4 linked regions of the Homo sapiens genome follow. The protein of the gene in region 1 purifies or fractionates together with the protein of each later gene. This does not show direct contact. Each region holds a gene or a part of one and is shown on either strand. Other genes may lie near its edges. The genes, in order: GSTO2, LIN54, FKBP1A and RBM12.

Region 1 (4,553 bases):
CCACTGTGCCCAGGGATTTGCACTTTATTTCAGAGTTGATGGTGAGTAATTGAAGCCTGTCAAGCAGGAGAGTGGTGTACTCCTTCATGCTTTTAAAAGTATTCAGTCCATCACTTGAACCCAGGAGGGGGAGGTTGCTGTGAGCCAAGACTGCGCCACTGCACTCCAGCCTGGGCAACAGAGTGAGACTCTGTTTCAAAAAAAAAAAAAAAAAAGAAAAGAAAAGAAAAAGTATTCAGCCCAGCTGAGCACAGTGGCTCATGTCTGTAATCCCAGCACTTTGAGAAGCCAAGACGGTAGGATCGCTTGAGCCCAGAAGTTTGAGAACACCCTGGTCAACATGGCAAACCTCCATCTCTTTAAAAAATACAAAATGTTAGCTTGGCATGGTGGCTTATGCCTGTAGTCCTAGGTACTTGGGAGGCTGAGATGAGAGGATCACTGGAGCCTAGGAGGTTGAAGCTGCAGTGAGCTATAATTGCACCACTGCACTCCAGCCTGGACAACACAGTGAAACCCTATCTCAAAAAAAAAAAAAAAGAAGAAGAAGAAGTTCAGCCCAGCAAGAATGTAGAGGATGGATTAGAGTGTCCAAGAGGAGGGACTGGGAAGGGACAAAGAGGACCCCACTAACGAGGGTTGGAGAGGGAGGTTTAATTAGAGAGATTTTGAGGAACTAAGATGAGATGAAATCTGAGGAAGGAGTAGGAGTTATGGAGGATGGTTTCCAAGTTTGTGGCCGGTAAATGTGATGCTTTTCACTAAGAGTTTGAGGGAAGACACATTTTGTCAAATTTGTGGTGTTGATGGGATATTCATATGCGGGCAGAGCTTAGAAGAACAATGTATGGTCTCTACTGGACCTTTGGAATGGTTTTATGGGCTAGGAGCTTTCACCAGAGAGTTTAGGAATGTCATTAGTGGGGTGGTGATAAATGTTTAAGAATCAATTTTCTCTTAAAAGAGAAAGAAAAAGAAAAAGCACGGATTTATAGCATTTGCTGATTTGGGTGGTGTAAACACTTCCGTCAAGGTTAATTTTGAGCTACCAATGTGCTATTTCTAAACTCAAGAGCTGGCAAAAGATGTGGGCAGCTCCAGCATGTCACTGAATAAGAAATTTCACTTTATCTTCAATAACTGAGCCCCAGGAACACTGTTGTTAACCAGCCTCTATATAGGTAGCTTTCACTAACCAGCCTCGGTGTAGGTAGCTTTCACTGATGCTATTTAAGGACCACTGAGTACTCCACATTGTCCTAACAGGTTTGAATGTGGTTTTGTCCCATAGAATGTTAGCAAGAATTGTAGCTATGGCTGGGCGTGGTGGCTCACACTTGTAATCCAGGCACTTTGGGAGGCCAAGGAGGGAGGATCACCTGAGGCCAGGAGTTCAAGACCAGCCTGGGCAACACAGTGAGACTATGTTTCTACTAAAAATTAAAACATGAACTGGTCATGGCAGTGCGGGTCTGTAGTCCCACCTTCTCTGGAGGCTGAGGCGGGAGCATCTTTTGAACCCAGGAGTTTGAGCTTGCAATGAGCTATGATCGTGCCACTGTACTCCAGCCTGGGTGACACAGCAAGACTCTGTCTCAAAAACAAATAAACAAAGAATTATAACTACAATGTAGGAAATATTGAAATCTGAAAACATGACCAATGTACTTGAATTATGCGATCTGTTCCTTTAAATGCCAAAATATTTATTCCAGGAGATTCTAGTGAAATTGAAATTTATCAGAATAATTCTAATGGAGAGGATCCCCTGATTTATGTAACTCTTTCACATGGTTTTGCACAATCAGGATTTTTTGTGAGCTAAAAATATATTAAATACTCATTGTCTTTCTGAGTGATAAGCAAGCCAAGATTTCATGCATAATCTTCTGCTATGTTATCCTGAAACAGAAGGCTCAGTTAACCTTTTGTGGCCTTAAACTCTGACACTTTCTTCTTTTGAAATAACTGCCTTGTCTAACTTTTTAAGTTTTTTTTTTTTTTTGGCTTGTTTTTTTGTTTGCTTGTTAGTTTTTTAAATCTAGTTTCAGGTGGGTTCAGTGGCTCATGCCTGCAATCCCAGCACTTTGGGAGGCCGAGGCGGGCAGATCATTTTAATCCAGGAGTCCGAGACAAGACTGTACAACATGGCAAAACCTTATCTCTACAAAAAATACAAAAATTAGTTGGATGTGGTGATGCATACCCGTGGTCCCTGCTACTTGGGAGGCTGAGGTGGGAGGATCACTTGAGTCCAGGAGGTCAAGGCTGCAGTGAGCTATGATCATGCCACTGTACTCCAGCCTGGGTGACAGAGTGAGACTTTGTCTCCAAGAAAAAAAAAATTAAGTTCCATCAAAATCAAAGATTTATTGTGCTTGTTATATAACCACATTTTTCTCTAATATCTTTTACAATTCTTTGAGATATATTACTGCCACTTTTATTATCAAACTAGCAGCCTGCTCACTGGCTTTCCTGTTCTGAACATTGGCATGAGTTTTAAAACTATGACACTTGTCTTGTCTTGCTGCACTTTATGTCTTCAAGCAGATTTTCTAGCCCTTACTGAATCATTACTCTAAGCAGCACACATTTTTTAGTTTTATTCTTTTTCAGGTATTGACTTTCCCATTTCAGAATGGGACTTGAGCCAGGCTTCATTTGATCTTTGTGGATTTGAATGTGGCAGGACCTCTTGGTGTCACTTTTTATCTGTGCCTTCCAAAAATATTTTCATTATGGAAGTAGTCAAATCAAGTCCAAGTGCAGTGAAAGGTGGATTTGGTCAGATTTCCTTGAGGCTTTGGAGTTTTGCTTTAAATCTAGAAAGTGTTCGTGGCTTCTGAATTGGTTCTGCACTCTGACTATTGCTTGGTCCTTTCTTCGTCATCATCAGAGCTCCATAAAAGAGAGCGGGGAGGGGATAACATAAATAATGCTGAAATAGCCCTGAGGGATGAGACATGGCCCAGCAACTGAAGCCTTCGTCTGCCCGTGGCCACAGGGCACTTTATGGTTTTGCTTCTTGTCATTCAACCACCTGCCTTGGGGTGCTTCACTTTGCATTTCCACGCAGAGTTTCCCGCATTGCCAAACTTGATCATGTGCCTTATGTGTAGCAGTTTGCATGAGGTGGAATTTGCATAAATTATGTGTGCATCACCCAGGAGCATCTGTAGTTAAATACTTTATTGATTCTAAATTTTGCCCATAATCTTAATTTTTTAATTATTTTATTTTCTTTTCCTCTTTTAGAGATTGGGGTCTCTCTCTATTGCCCAGGTTGGAGTGCAGTGGCACAGTCATGGCTCACTGTCGTCTTGAGCTCCTGGGCTCAAGCAGTACTTCCACCTCAGCCTCCCGAGTAGCTGGGATTACAGGCTGAAGCCACCGAGCCTGCCTCCGTTATCTTAATTATTATTATAATTATTTTTTTGAGTCAGGGTCGCACTCTGTCACCCACATTGGAGTGCAGTGACACAATCACGGCTCACTGCAGCCTCAGCCTCCTGGGCTCAAGTGATTCTCTCACCTCAACCTCCTGAGTAGCTGGGACCACAGGTTCAGGCCACCATGCCCAACTGTTTTGTTTTTGTTTTTATTTGTTTTAATTTTTTGTGGAGACGAGGTCTCACTATGTTGCTCAGGCTGGTCTTGAACTCCTAGGCTCAAGTGATTCTCCCACTTCAGCCTCCCAAAGTGCTATGATTACAGGCATGAGCCACTGCACCTGGTAATCTTAATTTTTAAACTGTTCTTTCTTCTCATCAAAAAAGACATTTATTCAAGTTAGATTATATTGTCTTGGTTTAGTTTTGCTTTTGCTCTTTCTTAATTTTTATTAATTTCCAGTGATGAAATTATTTATATATTGTTTAATTGTTTCTCCTTTGATATCACCAGGATAGGAAGAAAAGAAAGTTTATACCTGGTTAATTCGTCACTGAAAACAATTTTCTGTATCCTTTTATATATAGTAGACTACAAGCTAAATTTTTTATCATCTAAGTTAACATGTCTATAAACTAAATTCATTATTACTAGCTATTTTTAATAAGTTATTGAGATATAATTCATATGCCACAAAATTCACCCTTTTCCAGTGTACAATTCACTGGCTTTTAGTATATTAAGTGAGTTGTGCAACTATCACCAGTATTTAATTTCAGAGCGTTTTTTTTATCATCCCCCAGAAAAACTGCTCACTTGTAAGCTGTCATTTTCCATTTCTTCTCAATCCCTGTGGCTGTACGCAGCCACTGATCTGCTTTCTGTCTCTATGGATTGACTTATTCTAGACACTTCATATAAGTGGAATCATACAACATGTAGCATTTCATGAGCTATTTTCACATACCATAATGTTCTTAAGGTTCATCCTTCATTCTTTTTTATGGCTAAATAATATTCCATGTGTGAATACGCACATTTTGTTTATCCACATCTGGGAAGGTTCCACTCTTGGAACTAATATGGATAATGTTGCTGTGAACACCATGCAGGTTTTTGCATGAATATACGTTGTTATTTCTCTTGGATTTGCTAGCTGA
Region 2 (4,553 bases), on another chromosome or scaffold:
GCAGTCTTCATATGTATCAATAGCAAGCAACTCTACCTTTACTGGAACATCTGGTATCCAGACCCAGGCACGGCTTCCATTCAATGGGTGAGTATTTTGAAAATAGGTACATAAGTTGTTAGATCAGCTTAAATGCAACAGTAAATATATATATTCCAAACTACATCCTCTTTTATTTTTTTCCCCTTAAAGCCATGTGAGCATGCCTCTAAAATACTTGTTGAAATATTTCAAACAGAAAAATTACAGAAATAGTCAATTCCCAAATACTCTATTCAGATTCACCAATTTCACTACACTAGTTTTATTATTCTCTTTCATTCTGAGTATGTTTCCAAAATGATGATGCTAACTATTTTTTATCTTTATTTTTCAAGACAAGGTCTTGCTCTGTTGCCCAGGCTGGAGTGCAGTGCTGTGATCTCAGCTCACTGCAACCTCCCAGGCTCAAGCAATCCTCCTGCCTCAGCCTCCTGAGTAGCTGGAACTCTATGCACATGCCACCATGCTCTCCTAATTTTTAAATTTTTTTGTAGAGATGCGGTCTCACTATATTGCCCAGGCTAATCTCCACCTCCTGGGCTCAAGTGATCCTCCTGGCTCAGTCTCCCAGAGTGCTGGGATTCCAGGCTTAAGCCACTGCACCTGCCCAACTATTTTTAAAATTATGTGAGGTCCTCATTTTTTGTTGATGTTTATTTGTTTATCTATTAATTACTGGCTTTTGCAATATCAGCTTAGAAGCCGTGCTTAATTACCCGGAATCAGTCCACATCCCACTTCCATTTCCTCCTCCACACACTCCTTTTCCTCACTGCTTTTTATAATTGAATCCCAAGAGTTTTGAGGCAATCTCAACTTTTGTTTTCTTAGAAGGGACAGTGTTTGTGGAGTGTTCTTTAGCAGCTATTGATAACTTCTTTTAAAAAAATTATTCCATACTTGTCTCTACCTCTTTCATGTTACAACTTGCCTTTGAACCTAGTGTAAATAGAACAACGTAGCAAACTTTTTATTTTAGATGGACACATTTAACATTGGTTAAAGCTTTATTTCTGGAGGGATTTATAGATTGGAGACTTCTCTAATTTTAAATTAGTTTTAGGTCTAATTTTTTAAATTTTAAATTAGTTGTAGCAACTAAATTAATTTTAGTTACTATTAATTGATTAAATGTATATCTTTTTTTCTATCTGTACAGCATAATCCCATCAGAGTCGGCCAGTCGGCCCCGAAAGCCCTGTAATTGTACAAAATCACTGTGTTTGAAATTGTAAGTGTTTTTGCAACTGTTTGCTTATTTAATGTAATTAGAAATGCACTTAAAAGTAAATGGAGTTAACTAAAAATTTTTAGCAGACCAAAGCTCATAAGTCTAAGTAATTTAAATAAACATACAAATGAATGTTTGAACATATATGGCAGTGTAAAAATATTATTTCATTCATCTAGAAAGAAATATTTAGAGTCCTTACCATACATGAATCACTGGAGTAGGGGTTAGGGACATAGCAGCATGAGACAGACATAGCTTCTGCCCTTAATAATAATGTTTGATCTTATTTATGACTTTTGTATTTGGTCTCCTAAGTGATGATACTCTAGGTAGTTTTAAAAGTCACTGAATGGTTAATTTGCTTATTAGCATTAAAAAGACTTGACATGAAATAGTTAAATGAAAAGCATTGGTCTTATTGGGGCATAGAATCCAAAGTACTATTACTATAACTCAGATGAGCCAGTTCAACTATTAGAATATAGCTAGTGTTTTTCCTTTTTCAGAATTTTGAAATGCCTTACTTTGGGGGCACATAAAATTTATATGTGTGACATATAATTTATATAATTTATATGTGTGACAGCTCTTGTGTGACAGCTGTTATTGGTTGGACTAAGTTTTTAGGCCACATTTCTAGTACTTGGTGATTTAAACTTTGAGCCTTAGTATGTGGTTGACAATATGTGTTGTTAACTCTTTAACTGGGTAGCTGAGTAGATTTCTGAGATGCTTTACCACATATGTAGTATGTGTACAATATATATACAATGTATGCATAATCAGATAATTAGTTTTCCTTAATAATGACTTTTTACCTTATACTGACTTTTACCTTTCAGGTATTGTGATTGCTTTGCAAATGGTGAATTTTGCAACAACTGCAATTGTACTAATTGTTACAACAATTTGGAACATGAAAATGAAAGGCAAAAAGCAATAAAGGTGATTATTTTTTATTTCATTTAACTGACAGAAATATCCAGTTTCATCAGTTTTATAAAACTCAATTGTCTTGCAAAGAAACGTTATCAATTCCTTTTGCAGTGTTTAAATTTCATCTACTGTGATTTAACTCTAACTGATATTTGATCTGTTTTGCTAGGCATGCCTTGACAGAAATCCAGAAGCCTTTAAGCCTAAGATAGGGAAAGGAAAGGAGGGAGAATCTGATCGACGTCATAGCAAAGGGTGTAATTGCAAACGATCAGGATGTCTTAAAAACTACTGTGAATGCTATGAGGTGAGATGCTGGGTGCGGAAAATAATATCTTTTAAAAACAGTTTTAGAAAGGACCTACTACAAAAATTTACTTGAAAATTGGGAAATCACCTTGCTATTGCAATTTGAAAATATGCACAGTTGGTGCAAAGGCCCTTGTTTTAGGAAGGCCTTCGAGCCTCTGTAGCAGGGCTTCGGAGGAATACCTTGGGTTTATTATTACAGCTTGGGGTCTTACTGGGTGATTTACCATAACTTCTTGGTCATTATGCTCAGAAAGTATGCAGATCAGAACACCAATATATTGATTTTCAATAAAAATAATATCAAAGTGGATTGGAAACTCTCCAGCAGTGATTCTCACCTGAGGTGCAGTTCTACTTACTGTTCTTCACAGGCTTCTTAGAAATATATGGCCGGGTGCGGTGGCTCACACCTGTAATCCCAGCACTTTGGGAGGCAGAGGCGGGCAGATCACTTGAGGTCAGGAGTTCGAGACCTGCCTGGTCAACATGGTGAAACCCCGTCTGTACTAAAATACAAAAATTAGCCGGGCATGGTGGCAGGTGCCTGTAATCCCAGCTACTCGGGAGGCTGAGGCACGAGAATCGCTTGAACCCAGGAGGTGGAGATTGCAGTGAGCCGAGATCATGGCACTGCACTCCAGCTTGGGCAACAGAGCAAGACTCTGTCTCAAATATATAAATATATATTATAAATATATAAATATATATATATATATGGATACAAAATAGCCTGCATCCCAAGGTACAGTCTGGAAATTAAAGGATTATCTTGACCAAAATGCTGGTTATGCCCACTCAAAGAGCACACTGCTCTGCGGAAAACCAAAGTATGTTAAGTTTGCTTTGTGAGCATAAAAATAGGAAAGGGGGATCTGGCATTCTGCTGGATGAGGTTACTGGTCACGGTAGGCAATTGTCTCCATTTTCACTGTTTTGTTGTTCCACTGAGCTGGTTATTTTTACTTATGGGTCAGGCGTCTTCTCTGGAAGATGTAGTTGAAACTCTGCTCTGACAAATGCCATATAAATCTTCCCCTTCTTGCTTTAGACACAGTACTATATAGTTTTATTTTAGAAGCTTATGTGTAACAATCTAGTGATTGAGATTAACCCTAGATTACCATAATTGGTTTCTTGGTATGCCTGAAACTCTTTACTGACAGTCTTTTGGGTGGTTGAGTTATTCCTCTTCTTGGCTCTTCTCATACTCTCATATATTTTCATTCTTTCTTATTCTCAGAGAATTAATTAATTAATTAGTTTATTTATTTATTGGCAGAAAGCCTAGCTTTGCACTTGCTGAAGGTTTGCCCTGCCACAGGAGCATGTCCTCCAGTTCAGTGCCCTCTCCCATACAGCATGTGTCATATGAAAGATTTTGTGTATTGCATTCTCTGTGTAATGAATTCTTTCCTAATCTACTTATTTACAAAGTCAAATACTCCTCTCAGGAAGTAAAGTAGAATAGGGAATAGGAGAGTAACATCTTGTGAGTTCTGCAGATGATATGAATGAAAATTGCATAAAGAGACAAGTTTTTTGTTGTTGTTGTTGTTGTTATTTTGTTTTTGAGACGGAGTCTCGCCCTGTCGCCCAGGCTGGAGTGCAGTGGTGCGATCTTGGCTCACTGTAATATCCGTCTCCTGGGTTCAAGCGATTCTCCTGCCTCAGCTTCCCAAGTAGGTGGGATTACAGGCACCTGCCACCATGCCCAGGTAATTTTTGTATTTTTTGTTTTTAGTAGAGACAGGGTTTCACCACGTTGGCCCGGTTGCTCTCAAACTCAAGTGATCCGCCCACCCATCAGCCTCCCAAAATGTTGGGATTACAGGCATGAGCCACCGTCGCAAGTTGATTTTTTAAACTGTCTTAACATCTCAAAATCCAACAAGCCAGTTTTCATCCAGTGTTGGAATCTTTTTTAGTCTTTCTTCTTTTGAATACCTGATGAAATAGCCGGCTTGCGTTTAGAAGCCATATCATACAAAAATTGTCACGAATATGTAAAAATTAACACTTCTTTTCAGAA
Region 3 (4,553 bases), on another chromosome or scaffold:
CTGGTCACTCACTATCCATACTGTTCTCCTCACAGCAAATGTCTGGTATGTCCTTCCAAAGATGTTTTCTGTTGTAGGCATATCAATATTTTCACAAATGGTATTCAGTAAATGCTATTTTGTAGCCCAGAAAATCATATTGTCTTTTTTGAAGTTTTCCTATATGGGTAAAAGAGTATAAATAGAAAAAATACAGAAAAAATAGACTACCCTCAAGTATTACTTCCTGTGTATATATTTTTTTAAAGCAAAGTTGAGTATTCCTTTTTCAAGAAGAGCATAGATGGCACTTAACATGTCCTTTAAGTGACAGATCACTGAAGGGGACTAGGTGGTGAGACATCTGGAATGTTACCTGCCTAGCATTAGTCATTAAGACTTGCGTAGAAAGGTTGAGGGCCTGACCGTTCTGAGAGTCAGGAGGGGTTTTGAACTGCCATTGGGCTTCTTGGAGTGAGATGCAGGGGTGATGGAATATGACTGCCAACCTCCAAGTCCTGCACAAGGAGGTGGTGATGCCTGGGCAGCTGCAAAGTCACTGGAAAGTCAATACCATCCTGGCCAAGGAACACCTAGGTAAACAGCTCTTTTTCTTACAGAGACAGTTGGGGCATGTGTCCAGCTGAGTCTGTCTTCCTTGTTCTTTTCACAGATGAGTGTGGGTCAGAGAGCCAAACTGACTATATCTCCAGATTATGCCTATGGTGCCACTGGGCACCCAGGCATCATCCCACCACATGCCACTCTCGTCTTCGATGTGGAGCTTCTAAAACTGGAATGACAGGAATGGCCTCCTCCCTTAGCTCCCTGTTCTTGGGTAAGGAAATGGAATACTGAAGGGCCCTTCACTGCCTTTGCTCCTCCCATGTTATGCCCAGCGTTTGATGGGTAGCAGAGAGAACAAAAAACACCACAAGGCTATTTTTCCCCCTGCATTCTTTCTGTATTGAGTATCCTTTCAGTGTTATTAGTGTATGCTTTGAATGTAAAAATTGGTCACCCTAAGGAAAGGAATTGGCATGTGTATGTTCCCAGTTCAACTCATGGAGATGGCAGCTGTTTAAATGTTTTTCTATGTAGTTTATAAATTAAAACTGAATTGAGGACTATGGAAATGTAGGCCAAATTTGTAGTGCCAACATTTTAGTTCTTTGGAAATAAGACTCTTAATGAATGACTTTGTTCTACCCTGTGTTTCTAGAAGCTAGAGGGGGAAAAAAAAAGCCCTTTGGATATGAATATCATGTCCTAGCTTCTGCGGCTCTCTCTTCACTGTGGTTTGTGGTTACTGCCTATTAGATGGTATGAGGGAGGCATTCCTGCATCGGTCCACCTGCTCAGGGTCCACACCCAGGACACTTGAGGCCCCCAGGCCAGCTTATCAGTGAGTGAAGTGGAAAAATGAAGCCAGAGGATGCTTGTGAAGTTGAAAGGATGCTCTTAGATCAGACAGTTCTAGGAAGGGATCTTAGGGGCCTCTGCATCAGCTTTATTGTGCAACAGTAAGGAAACAGGGCCAGAGAGAAAGGCCTTACTCAAGGTCACATCCAGGCAGTGGCAAAGTAGGACCAGAGCCCCTGTTTGTTGATTTTCCCCTCTTCCACCCTCATTTCTTAGGAACTAAACTCAGTATCCTAGTAGCACGTAACTTTTCATGTAAGTGTTAGAATCATTAAGTACATGAATGCTACTGGCTTCCTTCCAACTGGCCCCAGACCTTTTTATTTGCTCCCCTCCTGCCATAGGAACCAGAGGGTCACAGCCAAGGCCTGGGTGAGGACACTTTTGTTTGAAAGCCACAACAAATGGCTGCCATCCTATTTGTGATGGCAGTCAGAGCTACTTGTAACCTGGTCCTGTTGTGCACATCTGTAAGTGGAGGGGCTTTTTAAACTCTCTGTTTGAACCACACACACCTTGGTAATACAGGCCTGGTTAAGTTTGATAACTGGTTTCTTCACCTGTCATTGCTACTGGGAGGGAATCCCTGGCACTTTACAGGGCCTTTGTCTGCCCAGAGGTCTGCACCTAGGCCAAAATCCCTTTCCTGTTCTTTGAGAGCTGAGTCATTTTTTGAACATAACTGTACTCGAGGGAGCCTTGGAATTATTTTCCTGGTTGGGAACAGGCTTTCTGTAAACTTGATGAGGTAGAGGGAGGGGAGAGAGGGATAAAGGCTACAAGTCACCCCGAGTAACCCTCCCAACCCACTGCCAAAGAATGTCTCAGCTTCTTGCAAGAGTCTGGAAGGAAAATCCAAGGGCAAACCCAGAAAGTTTTAAGTTGAGTGAATGAATGAATACTGGAGATATTTTCCCAGTATACTCAACATTATGAATGACCAGTTTATTCTCAGTCTGGACTGCACATGAGAGTCACCTGGGAAATTTTTAAGACTTTCCTGATGCCCAGGTCAAACCCTAAACCAGTTAATCATAATCATGGGAGTGGAACCCAGGCATTAAGAGTTTTTTAAAGCCCCCAGGTGATGCCTATATGTAGCACAGTTTGAGACCCAATGATAGTGGGGAACTGTATTGTCAGCAGCATGGGTGGCTAGCCCTCCTGCTGTCCTCAGCAAGGCAAACTTAACCTTAGATTAAACAAAACACACAGATCAATTTAAGGAGAAAGTTTGTTTCACCTGGGACCCAGCCCAAGTCTTTCTGGCTGTCTCCAGCTGGAACAGAAGTGGCTTGGTCTCAGACTGCTCAGCTGTTGGGGAAGGGATTTGGCGTGGCAGATGGCATCGTGGCTGTCGCCACTGCACACAAAGAACACTGAGTTGCTGGAAACTCACAGATTTTCTGTCCCCAACAGATCTGCCATGGAGGGATCTGGTGCCTCCAGACATGTGCACATGAATCCATATGGAGCTTTTCCTGATGTTCCACTCCACTTTGTATAGACATCTGCCCTGACTGAATGTGTTCTGTCACTCAGCTTTGCTTCCGACACCTCTGTTTCCTCTTCCCCTTTCTCCTCGTATGTGTGTTTACCTAAACTATATGCCATAAACCTCAAGTTATTCATTTTATTTTGTTTTCATTTTGGGGTGAAGATTCAGTTTCAGTCTTTTGGATATAGGTTTCCAATTAAGTACATGGTCAAGTATTAACAGCACAAGTGGTAGGTTAACATTAGAATAGGAATTGGTGTTGGGGGGGGGGTTTGCAAGAATATTTTATTTTAATTTTTTGGATGAAATTTTTATCTATTATATATTAAACATTCTTGCTGCTGCGCTGCAAAGCCATAGCAGATTTGAGGCGCTGTTGAGGACTGAATTACTCTCCAAGTTGAGAGATGTCTTTGGGTTAAATTAAAAGCCCTACCTAAAACTGAGGTGGGGATGGGGAGAGCCTTTGCCTCCACCATTCCCACCCACCCTCCCCTTAAACCCTCTGCCTTTGAAAGTAGATCATGTTCACTGCAATGCTGGACACTACAGGTATCTGTCCCTGGGCCAGCAGGGACCTCTGAAGCCTTCTTTGTGGCCTTTTTTTTTTTTCATCCTGTGGTTTTTCTAATGGACTTTCAGGAATTTTGTAATCTCATAACTTTCCAAGCTCCACCACTTCCTAAATCTTAAGAACTTTAATTGACAGTTTCAATTGAAGGTGCTGTTTGTAGACTTAACACCCAGTGAAAGCCCAGCCATCATGACAAATCCTTGAATGTTCTCTTAAGAAAATGATGCTGGTCATCGCAGCTTCAGCATCTCCTGTTTTTTGATGCTTGGCTCCCTCTGCTGATCTCAGTTTCCTGGCTTTTCCTCCCTCAGCCCCTTCTCACCCCTTTGCTGTCCTGTGTAGTGATTTGGTGAGAAATCGTTGCTGCACCCTTCCCCCAGCACCATTTATGAGTCTCAAGTTTTATTATTGCAATAAAAGTGCTTTATGCCGGCTTTTCTCAGCTCTGTGTCATGGTGGTTATTTTCAGGTGCCTCCCCTGCCATTTGGTGCAGGGGGATGGGGTTGGGCAGGGTGAAGGAGGGTGGCAGTGGGGATGCAGTTTCAAGATTGTGTCTTGGCAGAAGAATGCAGCAGTGAACATCCTTCCTCACTGGCTATTAACGGGTTGGGGGTCAGAGGAGGGGGAATGTGGGGTAGGTTTGCATCAAAGGAGCTGCCTGAAAGGGCAAGCTGGGATAGTCAGGGAACATCCCCTCCCCTGTTACCAAATGTTTATTAAATATGTGTTCTGGGTAGAGCACTATGCTCGGGGTTCTTGGGTTACAGAAAAGTGGGAGATACAACACATTTTTGAGAAGTGAGTCACAGTCCACTTGGAGATGTGCTACAAGCAACTGCAAGCAAATTAATGAGATACGAAGAGAAGACTCTGATTTTAAATTGGTATTCCTCAGTAACATTTAATGTAGAAAGACAGTCCTGTGGAGAGGCTGCGTGGTTGCAGTAGCTTCTCTGGACCCTGCCCTGGGTGCCAGGAACACTTTGCCCTTACTGAGAGTTCTAGAGACCGTCAAGAATGCTCCCACACCTTTCTAGACACCTTCCAAAATTGCCCAGGTTGAGAACCATTGATTTTAA
Region 4 (4,291 bases), on another chromosome or scaffold:
TCTCAGAATTTGGTTTAAAGCTGGACAGATTTGCTTTGTTATAGGGTAAAGCTTTGTCTAAAGTCCTCATTTTCTTTTAAAATTGAATAAAATTTCTGTATACAGATTCATTGTATGTACCTTTATTGCTTCTTAAGGGTCCTTGCTGTATAGACAGTCCTGCTTCAGAAGTTGCTGCTTTGTTTGTCTAATTGACTCATTTGTAAATGAGCAGAACTGTTTTGTTGGTTTTTTTCCCTAAATATAAAAGTCCACACTTCGTTTGTGCTATAACCTCAAACTTTGATTTCTAATGTCACACTTAAAACTGTGTGGAATAAGACTTTTGCCATAAAAATAAACTATGGAGTCCTTTATCTACCAGAGCCTTTTTGGTTTGACCGCCACGATTTAGGTTAGTCAGTTTAAAAATTGTTCATGTTGTTTGGATGGTATCGAAAACCAGAAACCACTTTTAATAATGTGTTTAAGATACTTGATTTGAAGTCCTTTTCATATGGACTAATTGTAGTATCAATTTCCTCCTGTCCCGATTATGTGAAATTTTGGCCTTTAAACAAAGAGGGGCCCATTCATAAGAAAGTGTTATATCTAGGTTTTTAAAACTGAAGTTGAAATTATCTTTGTTAGCAGTAGTAGTATAGAATAAAAGATCCGTATGCTGGTTCGTAGATTGATACGTGTTAGTCCTGTTATTTGGAGGCTTTTTGGCATAGTTGTTCGATCAGGAGCCTGTTTACTAAAAGTCTTCATACAGAGTACAAGTGCAGCCGCCAGAGGAGAAAATTGAGATTCTTGACCCTTTCATACTCTTTTCTTTGGTATTCAGGACACTAAGGCAGGAGGACCACATGAGTTCTGGTTGGTAAGTGTCCTTGTCATGAAAACACTTGCCTTACAAGGCTCTAATTATGATTTCCCTAGTCAGTGCTCTGAAGATGTGTCACATTATATTATAAACAATACGGAAGGGGAGATAGGTGAGATGATATGAAAAACAAATTTTCTCACTGTCATAAAAGGCTCTAATTATGGTTACTTTCCTTGTGATGAAAAACTTGGCCTTACAGGGCTCTAGTTATGGTTACTTTCCCTAGTCAATGCTCTGAAAATGTGTCACATTATAAACAATACAGAAGGAGAGATAGATGAGAGATCATGAAAACCAAATTTTATCTTTTACATGGCCCCTTTGTCTTCGTTTGAAACATCCCCAACATTTCCTACAAATCAGCGTAGTTACAAAGGGGTCAGTCTTTTAAAATAAGTATTTCCTATTAAACTATATATATATACAGTGCCTTTTTGGTGTTGTGAGTCAGTGGAACACTGAAATACAGCGGTTGTGTAATTTAAGAGTGGCAACAGTTTCATTTGATAAGATTTGAAAAGGCTTTTTATCACTACAATCTTAGAGGATTGACAGTACAGGATTTTTGTTTAAGAGAAGGATTGTTTAGACTCAAGAGGTGACTATGTTGTGGGTCTTTTGATAATTCATGAATACAGATTTGCTTTGACCGATCACTAGATACTGCCTCCTCAATTTCAAAAGCAATATAACGTTTGTATATGCTGTTTAATTTAAGTTAATGTTAAGTAATCATTTCTCATTCCAAAGACAATGCAAAAAACTTCAGCACTGCTTGAGAGTTGTATTTCAGCCACAGATATTTTCTCCATTGGAAAGCTATTTTCATTTTAGAAAAATGGGTTGTTTGAAGATGAAAGTCTTTTATCTTTTTTCACAATTTATTTTGGTTATATGTTCGTACATTCTTATTAAATATTTCATACACTTTATTGCAACTACTTTGTTATTTCTACATCTTAGATAAATGCTGAAAAGGAAAACGATTTCATTGTTCATCTAATTAAATAAATTAAAAGAGCGGTTTGTGTAGAAATTGGAGAGAACTATGTTTTATATGAATCACAACAGTGCTCGTTGTGGACTGTAATTAAATGCTTTGCCCTCTGGAACTTGATTTTTGTGTATCTGAGATTTATTAACAGTGCTAACTGCTAAGGATACTGTTTATCTTGTTCTGGGCATTGGAGTTTCAGTTTTTAAAAAATTCTTGAAAATGTATTCTGTGAAACTACTCATACCTCTCTTCCTGCGAATTTTCTCCTAAGAACTAGGTTTGGGGTAGAAATGAATTGACATTATTTTCTCATTTGCTTTGTATGGTATGAAGGATTTGTAAAGCTTTGCTCAAAGTTGTGTGCATTTGTAAACACTATCATGATATTTTCAATTTTATGTGTAAATTTTATTGTCTGTTTTTGGTGACTCTGACATTAATGGAAGAGAATATTTTCCATTAGATTTAATTTTTTTTCCTCTCCCTTCTGATTTTTTTTTTATTGGTGTTCATTTTTCTTTTGATTTAAAGGATTAGAGAAATCTACAAATGTATGTCATAAATAAGCAAATTTGTAAACTTTTCTGAACTTTAGTGAAACATTTAGTTCACAAGCATAATTTGGAGGTGTGTTCTGTGTTTACACAGTAGTTTGGATGTACAATTATTATTAGTGGCTTTTTAAAAAATGAAACAGTGTTAAGTGAAATGTAGTTCCTAGCTTTGTACTCCAAGTTGTCAAAGCATCAACAATGAAAATTCGATTAGGAAACTTTATTTAAAATTTCAGGTAGTAATATTCAGTGTAGTTAAGGCCAGTCTTAACCCACTGGATGAAAATCTAGGACTGTATGGAAGTAAGCAAACATTACATTTTTAGGTGGAAATAGTCAGCCTTGCATAAAAACAAGGATGCGTGAAAGCCTTAAATTCCAGCTCCCTTTTACTGGAGTCTGTGGTTGTGTACAGGTATGGGCCAAGTGTAAAATCTCATCAATTTTAAGAACACTCGGGAAATGAGTAAAGAAAATGTAAAATTGCTGCTAGTCAAATCTTTTGGAAAGAATTTCTGGAAGTGGTCACTTTAAAAATTATTTTCCACCCTTGCAAAATTGCCACATTTAAATTGTTTTACTGGCAGTTCTATAGTAGTCCAGACTTTAGAAACCAAACACAACAAAATGGCTTGTTGCCAATATGGCCACAACATTGCCAGCAAATACTGCCTTGGCATCACTCAGCAGAGGTTTTTGTTTATAAAGATGAAGTCTTGAATACTGTTCAATAAACTTGTCAAAAAATAAAACAGGCTGATGCTTTTAATGCTTTAACTGCACAAAAGTACTTTACTGAGCTATAATATTATCTTGTCAGGGTTTTTGTTTTGTTTTGTTTTTAAACCTGAAAATATTTTGTGCCTTTGGAGAGGTAGATTTGGTAATCTTGGAGAGGTAAAAATTGTTGCTTATCCTTGCCTGCTAATGCTGAAGTGTCAAGAGAAGAGGATACTTGGAACAGCAGGGAGGAAACTTGATTCAAGTCCATAGTATCCACCTTTTCAGAATTTTATGTGTATGATGTGTTGGCAAACAAAGCCCTTAAATGTTGAAAACTTTTTATCTTGAAAGAGTTTAGCTTGTATTAGAATTTGGATACCCAGTGTGTTTTAGAGGGGGCTAGACATATAATTCCAGGTAGTAGCTGAGCCATTATTAAATAATCGGGATTTGACTAAGCAATGGACAAATCACTGAGTGAAATCAGCTGCCTACAGATATCCAAAATGGCTTTTACCATCTGAAAGGGGTGGACTGTGTGATAATATGTCTCCTTTTCTTGTTCAGGAGAGATCAGTTATGTAATTCATTGTTACCTGCTTTCCAGTGTTTTACAGCAAGAAATAGTTTATCAACTATGTGCATCATCACTAATCTCCCAAAAGTAGAGCTTTTACAGGGTATGGTAGAATCAAACTTATGGCTTTCCTTTTTTATTAAAAATGGCTTTATTTCAGTCTTATCTTTTTAGTATAGAATCTGATCATTTTGACTTGTGAAATGTTCTGGAAAGAGTGTACTCTGGTAGTAGCACAATTCTCTGATGTTACAGTGACTTTTCTGGGAAAACCCCTGTCTATTCAACAACATAAGCAAGTTCATCTCCTGCTCAGGTAAATGGTAATTTTTTTTTTTTTTTGAGATGGAGTCTGTATCTGTTGCCCAGGCTGGAGTGCAGTGGTGCGATCTCGGCTCACTGCAACCTCCACCTCCTGGGTTCAAGCGATTCTCCTGCCTCAGCCTCTCAGTAGCTGAGACTATAGGTGCGTGCCGCCAAGCCCAGCTAATTTTTTTTTTTTTTTTTTTCATTTTTAGTAGAGACGGGGTTTTGCCATGTTGGCCAGCATAGTCCCCACCTCCTGATCT

The links.
Region 2: the proteins of GSTO2 (region 1) and LIN54 purify together in Homo sapiens (affinity purification with mass spectrometry; one large-scale study listed by BioGRID and IntAct). This does not show direct contact.
Region 3: the proteins of GSTO2 (region 1) and FKBP1A fractionate together in Homo sapiens (co-fractionation; one large-scale study listed by BioGRID). This does not show direct contact.
Region 4: the proteins of GSTO2 (region 1) and RBM12 purify together in Homo sapiens (affinity purification with mass spectrometry; 2 studies listed by BioGRID and IntAct, with this or other methods). This does not show direct contact.

What each region holds. Positions count from the first base shown.
Region 1 is NC_000010.11:104,282,029-104,286,581, forward strand, and holds part of GSTO2 (glutathione S-transferase omega-2), read left to right. Parts: intron 1-3,906; coding exon of another isoform or gene 3,907-3,939; exon of another isoform or gene 3,940-3,962; intron 3,963-4,553. UniProt on the Homo sapiens protein: Exhibits glutathione-dependent thiol transferase activity. Has high dehydroascorbate reductase activity and may contribute to the recycling of ascorbic acid. Participates in the biotransformation of inorganic arsenic and reduces monomethylarsonic acid (MMA).
Region 2 is NC_000004.12:82,933,947-82,938,499, reverse strand, and holds part of LIN54 (protein lin-54 homolog), read left to right. Parts: coding exon 1-87; intron 88-1,201; coding exon 1,202-1,273; intron 1,274-2,118; coding exon 2,119-2,221; intron 2,222-2,381; coding exon 2,382-2,519; intron 2,520-4,553. UniProt on the Homo sapiens protein: Component of the DREAM complex, a multiprotein complex that can both act as a transcription activator or repressor depending on the context. In G0 phase, the complex binds to more than 800 promoters and is required for repression of E2F target genes.
Region 3 is NC_000020.11:1,368,340-1,372,892, reverse strand, and holds the end of FKBP1A (peptidyl-prolyl cis-trans isomerase FKBP1A), read left to right. Parts: intron 1-652; coding exon 653-781; coding exon of another isoform or gene 782-817; exon of another isoform or gene 818-1,177; intron 1,178-2,820; coding exon of another isoform or gene 2,821-2,864; 3' UTR 2,865-3,915; downstream 3,916-4,553. UniProt on the Homo sapiens protein: Keeps in an inactive conformation TGFBR1, the TGF-beta type I serine/threonine kinase receptor, preventing TGF-beta receptor activation in absence of ligand.
Region 4 is NC_000020.11:35,647,838-35,652,128, reverse strand, and holds the end of RBM12 (RNA-binding protein 12), read left to right. Parts: 3' UTR 1-3,204; downstream 3,205-4,291.